Homo sapiens: one gene and its partner. The protein of the gene in region 1 purifies or fractionates together with the protein of each later gene. This does not show direct contact. Each region holds a gene or a part of one and is shown on either strand. Other genes may lie near its edges. The genes, in order: DRD5 and GNA12.

Region 1 (4,286 bases):
TCTTCAGAAAACACGATTTCTCAAAAGCCATGTCATTCTAAAACATGCTACAGTTGTCAGATGGAGAAAGATTCAAGATATTATTCTACATGATCTTTTCAATGAACTGATCGCATCTGTCTAGGAATAAGGAGAGTTGTCTTATGTTACTTCAAAAAAGATTCCATATGAGAAAAAAAACATCTGGTCTTGAGAAGATCTAATGCCATGCCATTGAAGCCAGGTTTCAGCACAGACCCAACATGGGTATAAGTAATAAAAAGAAACCTGAGAAAACAGAAGCTCCTCAAGGTCCTTTGCCCTGGTGTATCTTTAAGGCCAAACTGTAAAGAGATTAAGCATGTACTTCCAGACCCAGCAAATATCTTCTTTGCATTTTAAGGATGCACTCATCGTTTCTTCAGAAGCAATCCTGAAACCCAATGTAGCAAAGCAAAGATAGTCACCCCATAATACAAATAATCTGTGTTTATTAGACACCAGAATAAATCAGGGATACTTCTTAAGCTATGGTAAAGAGGCCCCCACCAGCACAGAGAGAAGAAATGACATAAGCACAAAGCCACGGGAATCCAGACCCAGGAAAGCTGTGCTCCCACCACATCACTGCACACACACACAACCTGCTGTTTAAAAATCAATTCAAACACAAACAAGTGACTGAACAAGCCATTTGTTTAAAAAGGGAGGGGAGAGCATATTTTTTAAGGACCAAGTATCATTTTTTTTTTTAAGGACCCAGCACCATACTCTCTTCTCTCATAGGATCGTTGGTCCATCTCTGGTAGGCTGGGTACATTTGACTGAGTTTATTGCAACTGCTTCTGCCAATTCTTCGAACTACCAATCAATGGGGTGAGGTTTCTAAGCACACGAGCTACTACACAGAAACACATGATAAAGGGAGCAGCACTGGAAAGGCATGTATTTGCGTGTGTGTGCGTGCTTGTCAATGTCTGTGCGGTTATGCAGATCCATGAGGGGGTTTCTTAATGCAGTTTAATGGAATCCATTCGGGGTGAAAGGTGTTATTTTGTCTAAAGAAATCTCCCCCTCGCAGTCCAGCTCCCAGACAGACTCAGCAACAGGGTCACCATCTGGGGACGTCTGATAGATCTGGAACATGCGATCGAAAGGACCCTCCTCCTCGTCGTTGTCCACCTCCCGGTTGCCGGGGGTAACGGCGTTGGGCATCATGTGGATGTAGGCAGCTGCGATTTCCTTGTGGAAGACGATGTCTTGGTTGTAGGAGATGAGCTCATTGCTGATGTTCACCGTCTCCACCGGCGTGCGGGAGCAGAAGTGGCTGCACCCCAGCAGCTGGGCAAACACCTTCTGAAAGTCGGCGTTGAAGGCATAGATGACGGGGTTGAGTGAGGAGTTAGCCCAGCCGAACCAGACGAAGACGTCGAAGGTGGTCTCACTGACGCAGGGGAAGCCGGCCGGAGGGCCTTCGGGGTGTCCACTGCAGAAAGGGACCATGCAGTTAAGGATGAAGAAGGGCAGCCAGCAACACACGAAGACCCCCATGATCACCGACAGGGTCTTGAGAACCTTGGTCTCCTTCTTGATGGAAGCGCGCAGGCTGGTGTCGGGCGCGCAGGCTGCGCTGCTCCGGCAGCTCTGCGCGTGCTCTGCGGCCCTCTCCAGGGAGGAAATCCTGCGGATCTGCACCTGGGCGATGCGGTAGATGCGCGTGTAGGTCACGATCATGATGGCAACGGGGATGTAGAAGCTGATGAGCGAGGAAGAGATGGCGTAGGTTCGATTCAGGCTGGAGTCACAGTTCTCTGCATTCACGTCGGGCTCCCAAAAGTCCTCCTCCCAGGGCGTCCAGTTGGCCAGGTTGTTTGGCAGGTCCAGCCCGCCCCAAGAGGCCGCCTGGTCCCTGTGCCAGTTGAGCTGGACCGGAATGAAGGAGATGAGGATGGACAAGGTCCATGCCAGGCCGACCATGACCAAGGCCATGCGCTGAGTCATCTTGCGCTTGTAGCGGAAGGGCCTGGAGATGGCCCAGTAGCGGTCCACGCTGATGACGCACAGGTTCAGGATGGAGGCAGTGGAGCACATGATGTCGAAGGCCACCCAGACGTCGCAGAACGCTCCAAAGGGCCAGTAACCGGCCACCTCGGCGACTGCCTTCCAGGGCATGACCAGCAGCGCCACGAAAAGGTCTGACACGGCCAGAGACACGATGAAGACGTTGGTCATGTTGGCGCGCAGGTGGCGGCTCCGCACGATGGCTGCGCACACCAGCACGTTGCCCAGCAGGGTCCAGATGATGAGTAGGGTCAGCAGGCAGGCGGTGACCACCTGTGAGGGCCCCAGTGGCGGTGCCCCCGCCGAGCCCCCCACGGCGTTCCCCTGCGCCAGCTGCTGGTATAGAGCGAACTGCCCCGGGTACGCGGTGCCGTTGCTGCCTGGCGGCAGCATTTCGGGCTGGACTGCAGGGGCGGTCTGTGCGCGGTCCCAACTTCAGCCCTGCGACCCCCAGGCAGCCCCATCGGGCACCCCGAGGATGCGCCCCCTCAGCCAAGGGACCCTCGAGCCCCAGAGGGCGCTCACCATGAGCTGCGCCGGGCTGCGGAGCGCGCGGGGACTTCTCTTGCCTCCTGAAGCGCCTCTGGCTCCATGGCCGTGGTGCGCCCCTCCAGTCTCCGCGATGGGGACAGGAAGCGGCTGGTGCTCGCTGACAGCCAGGGCTGTTCTCGGGAGTCTGTAGCGCGCCGGACGGCAGCGGCAGCGGCTGTGTCTGGTTCGGAGCGAGAGAAGAGAGCAAGCCGCCACTGAGGGGCTGGGGCAGGCAGTCGCGGGCGCCAGGCTGGCACTGAGGCGCTGCCGCGGTCCCTGGCCGCTCCCAGGCCCCGCGTCCCGCCCCCCGAGCCTCCGCGCTCGACTCCCGCCCCACCTGTGCCTTGGCGCCCTCGCTCACCGCCCTCAGCGCGCCAGAGTGTAGGGGCGATCCCGCAGGTCCGAGGGGCGCCCCAGCGCCAGACCCTAGTCCCCGGGCCGGGGAAAATTCTCCCCGGGAAAACCGAAGGGTGCTTGGCGCATCCCTGGAGCCTTAGCCCTGGCCACGCTTGGGGAACAAGAGGTGGGGTAAGGATGAGGACGCGAGGGCTTCCGGAGGGGGAAAGAGCATTTGAAGGGTAAGCGGGGCAGCCTTGGATTACCCACAGACCCGAGTCCCAATCCGGACTTTATTCCTGGCTCTGCGACTTTAAGGGCCCTACATAACTTTACCCGGCCTTGGTTTCCTTCTCCACAGCGTGGGATAATGATTCCTACTCCTGGGACAGTGTCAGAACTCATGGAAGCCGTCTAGGATGAGGTGTCCAGTAGACAGTGTCTCCTAGGAACAGGCTCCCGCTTCCCCCAGCCCCTCTCTCAACACCCTGAGGCTGGGGCTTCAGCTGACCTCTTGGGAGATTGTCCTTTTCCCCACCACCGCCCCCAGTCCTTGAACGATTTTTCCTTTGGGGAATAATTCGGAATGAACTCAGAAGACAAGAGGAGGAAGAGAGCCCCCCACCCCCATAGAGTTGGAGGCCTCTTCTTTGCAGGGCACTTTTACAGCCTTTCTCTTTTTCAACCTTGAGAGGGATGGATAAATAGCTCAGTGTTTAACAGAAAAGGAACTGACGGGGCCCAAAACCCAAACTGAAAAAAAAGAATGATGGAAAACAATAAAGAGGGAAAACAGTGTTCCTGAGCTCTGAGTGCACCTCCCAGCTGACAAGTTGCATTTGTGAAGTGTTTCGGCCTCTACTGGCGTTAAGCTCAGCTGAAGGCAGCTGGGAGAGAAAGGGATGTGACAGCAGCCAGCTGCATAGCTCCGGCTGCGACCTGCTGGCCCAGACACCTGCAGCATGGTGAGGTCTAGAAACAGACTGGACTTTCTCCTCCCTTCCTAGTCTCCCCCTCCACCAAACGCACCTGTACCCTGGACCAACATCTGCAAGTGGCCCACCTTCTCAGACTTAAGCTGCTCAGCCTACACAGTCCCTTCCCCCAACCTCCTTCCCCCTCAGTGCTTTTTGCCGCTGGAGAGGGCAAGACCATCTGTCCAGGTGCCTAAACCTGAAACTGAAGGGCCATCCTCACCTCTGGTCTCTCCTCATCTTCTGGGAGCTGGACCACTCCTCTGGCCATGGACATCCCTGTCCAGAATTGTGCCTCCTCCATCCTGTTTGATGGTGGCACTTTCCTGGCCTCCAGTCTCTGCCCTGACCCTCTGTCTTCCCAGCAGGCAGTGATCTTTCCTGAATGTGACTATGTTCATGTCA
Region 2 (3,809 bases), on another chromosome or scaffold:
GGAGAAACAAGCAGACTGGGCTTTGAGGCCCAAATTTCTCACAGTGATTACCAAGATGATGTGGCCTCAGGCACAGCATAACTGGTACGGGCTTACTTCCATGTCGTGACAATACAAGGGCTTGACTTCCTAAATTGGGAGGTCCCTTCCAGCACTGACACCCTGCACTGACGGAACAGGGCAAAGACAGAAGCCTGTCAAAGCTGCTGCACCATGCCGAATCCCAGACAGAAGCCTCACTCAGTACGATCAGCCCCAGACACTTCTGCTTCCTTCTTTGGAAAATCCTCAATTTCCATCCAAGTTCTAAATGAATGAGAATCTTCTTTCCCAGACTCTGTGAGTGTATGGGGAAAAGGTGTAAACCTCAATTTCACATTGAGATACTGACATGTATTTCCCAATTGTTTCTTCCAGCCCTGCTCTTTAGGAGATTAAAATTTCCTTTCTACCGCAACCACATCTTCCACTCTCTTTTGATTCTTTTACCTTAACTGTTAAAGTTAACTTGAGAAGGAATGTGCAGATGGAAAGGGGCTAGTAAAAACGTCATCCTTAAGATGCCCTGGAGGACATTAACATTTACAGGCAAAAGCCTGAGGAGAAACAGGCTATTTGCAGGGTCTCAATGTATCTCCCTAAGATATGTGTTAACAACACAGAGAAAATACTGACTTCCCAGTGGAGAAAGGTGGCCAACAGTGCCTCAACCAAGCAACCCAGGCTTGCATCACCAGCCACTGGACAATATCACGCACTTCCTGATCAGATGATCTGAGCAGGGCTCAACGGCACGCCTGCGGTTTCTGTGCCAAAAAAATGCATCCCCTCATCCTGATGACGAGAAAATACCAGACAAACCCAAACAGGAAGATTCTACACAATACCTGGCCAGTGCTCTGGACATGTCAAGGTCATGAAAGGCAAGGAAAGATCAAGGAGCTATCATGGACTGCAAGAGACCAAGGGGACACAATGACTAAACACAATGGGGGATTCCAGGCCAGGATCCAGCAGACAGGAGCGCGAGAGGAAGCAGCGGACAGGACGCGAGAGGAAGCAGCGGACAGGACGCGAGAGGAAGCAGCGGACAGGAGCGCAAGAGGAAAGGTGGGTCACATTCAGACAAGGTCTACAGTTAATTGATGCTTTCATACCGATGTCAACTTCTTAGTTTTAATAGTTGTATAGTGGTTAAGATGTTAACATTAGGGGGACTTGGGAGAAGAATATAAGGAAATTGAACTGAGGGGACTATTAGCAGACTATATAGCACCTCTCAGATGATTGAGAAAAATAAAAATTACTCTGCAGGAAAAGGATGGGTAAAAGATATGAATAGGGTGGGGCATGGTGGCTCACACCTGAAATCCCAGCACTTTGGGAGGCCGAGGCGGGTGGATCACCTGAGGCCAGGAGTTCGAGACCAGCCTGGCCAACATGGTAAAACTCCATCTCCACTAAAAAATATAAAAATTAGCTGGTGTGGTGGTGGGTGCCTACAGTCTCTGCTACTCGGGAGGCTGAGGTGGGAGAATCACTTGAATCCAGAGGTGGAGGTTGCAGTGAGCTGAGATGGCGCCACTGCACTCCAGGCTGGGCAACAGCGCGAGACTCCATCTCAAAAAAAAAAAAAAAAAGGAAAAAAAAAGACGTTTCCAATAGCAAAATATGAAAAACAGTTCAAAAGTACCTCAATGAAAGAAGGAATGGATCCTAGTATCTTTCCACAGTGGAGCATCAGACAGCAGTGAAAAGGGAAGAACCGCTGCTATGTGCCTCGCCTGATGAAATTCCAACATGTGGAGTGAAAAAGGCAAGTCACAGAAGCATATATACTATACACTAAGAAATGACTTATATGAAGGTTAAGAATCAGTAAAACTCAAGACTGTCGTGTTTACAAATAATAAATGGGTATTATGGCAAAATCATAAGAACGGCAAAGGATTCATGACTTCAACTTGACTCTGGGTGCTAAGGGGGCAAACGGCTGTGAGAGTGAGAGGCATTTCTGGATACCCTGGGTGTGTATTAATATCAGCTGTGCACATTTATGCTGGTTATCAGAAAAATTGTACATTTTACTTTATATACGGTTAATTTTGAAAGGTAGAAAAAAACAAAAAGCAAACAGGCAAAACCCCCCAGATTTTCTGGTTATAGATTCAGACCCCAAATGAATCTAAATAACTGGGCTTTGTGAAGTTTTTAGACCTTAAAACGAAAGGAACAAATCTGAAGGGAACAACTGGGAGGAGTTGGATTTGCTTCCGAGGCGCTGATCTGAAGGCGTTCGTGAGTTGCCCATACCCACAGGTCCAAAGTGGGAAGCTGTTGTGGGGGGTGTTATTTCCTACTATGAACAAGATCTCTAAAAAAAACTAAATTTCTCGGGTTGTGCCAATGCTGATGATTCTAAGAACCCTCCGTATTCCCAGAAGAAAGCTATTGATCTTACCTGAGTGGCTCTTGCTCCTTCCCCTCTTGAGCCTTTTATATAGCATCTGCCTCCATCCCGTGTTTTGGTTGTTGATCATTACAACTTACGGTGATTTAGAGCTTGCTTGGACTGTTACACAGTTTTTAAGGAAATTCAACTAACGGTCCAAAATAGTCATGTAAAAAACACACTATCAGGTGCCCAGCAAGAAGGCCTACTCACTCACCAGCTGAAACTCGCTTCTCCGGCTGAAAGCCTCCCTGATGCCAGAATCCCTCCAGAGTGCGCTCAGGGCCGGGACGTACAGCTGGAAGGTGGCCGGCTCCACAGGCAGCCCCGCCTTGTTCTCGAAGGCCATCAGGAACATCCCATGCTTCTCATTTTCAGAATACTGCCAAGGAATGCCAAGCTTATCTCGTGCATCAACAAGAACCCTTGAGCCCTAGAAAATAAAAGAAAGAAGAGAGGATTTAATTGCATTCCAAAGACTAAACCACGCTAGAGAAGCTCAAAATGGGCATCCATTGTCATAACGCAGAAAACTCACAAGCTCTGAGCTGTGCAGCCTGAGTCTGTCTCTTGGTTTGTTTGTTGTGATGTGGAAAGTCTTAACTCTCAGCAGTATAACCTCACCAAGACAGACGCACATGGCCGAGAGCAGTGGCTCACACTGTGAGCCTCCCCTTTGGGAGGCCAAAGAGGGAGGACTGCTGGAACACAGGAGTCTGAGACCGGCCTGGGCAACAGAGCAAGACCCTGCTTCTACAAAAAATTAAATCAAATTAAAAACAGCTGGGCTTGGTGGTGGCACACCTGTAGTCTCAGCTGAGCGGGGAGGATTGCTTGAGCCCAGGAGGTCAAGGCTACGGTTATCTATGATTGCTGCACTATATTCTAGGCTGGGCAACAGAGCAAGACCCTGTTTCAAAAAAAAAAAAAGAAAAGAAAAAAGAAAAAAAAGAAAACAGATGTACATAAGCACCACAGAAAGAAGTCTGCTTTCTGCTATCATTCATTTGCAAAGCTACTGGAAAAAAGACAACTGGGCGGGGAGGAGGTGGCAACAATTTCAGAAAATTTCACTGGAAAATGAAGTGTATCAGTAAAAAAACAACTTTTTTTTTTTTTTTTTTCTTAGATGGAGTTTCACTCTTTTTGCCCTGGCCTGGAGTGCAATGGAGTGATCTCGGCTCACTGCAACCTCCGCCTCCCAGGTTCAAGCAATTCTCCTGCCTCAGCCTCCTAAGTAGCTAGGATTACAGGTACCTGCCACCAGGCCCGGCTAATTTTTTATTTTTAGCTGAGATTACAGACCACCACGGACTGCTAATTTTTGTATTTTTAGTAGAGAGGGGGGTTCCACCAT

Evidence for each region.
Region 2: the proteins of DRD5 (region 1) and GNA12 purify together in Homo sapiens (affinity purification with western blotting, with the first as the bait; one study listed by BioGRID). This does not show direct contact.

Annotation. Positions count from the first base shown.
Region 1 is NC_000004.12:9,780,177-9,784,462, reverse strand, and holds DRD5 (D(1B) dopamine receptor), read right to left. Parts: upstream 2,830-4,286; 5' UTR 2,434-2,829; coding exon 1,000-2,433; 3' UTR 454-999; downstream 1-453. UniProt on the Homo sapiens protein: Dopamine receptor whose activity is mediated by G proteins which activate adenylyl cyclase.
Region 2 is NC_000007.14:2,792,259-2,796,067, forward strand, and holds part of GNA12 (guanine nucleotide-binding protein subunit alpha-12), read right to left. Parts: intron 2,886-3,809; coding exon 2,670-2,885; intron 1-2,669. UniProt on the Homo sapiens protein: Guanine nucleotide-binding proteins (G proteins) are involved as modulators or transducers in various transmembrane signaling systems. Activates effector molecule RhoA by binding and activating RhoGEFs (ARHGEF12/LARG).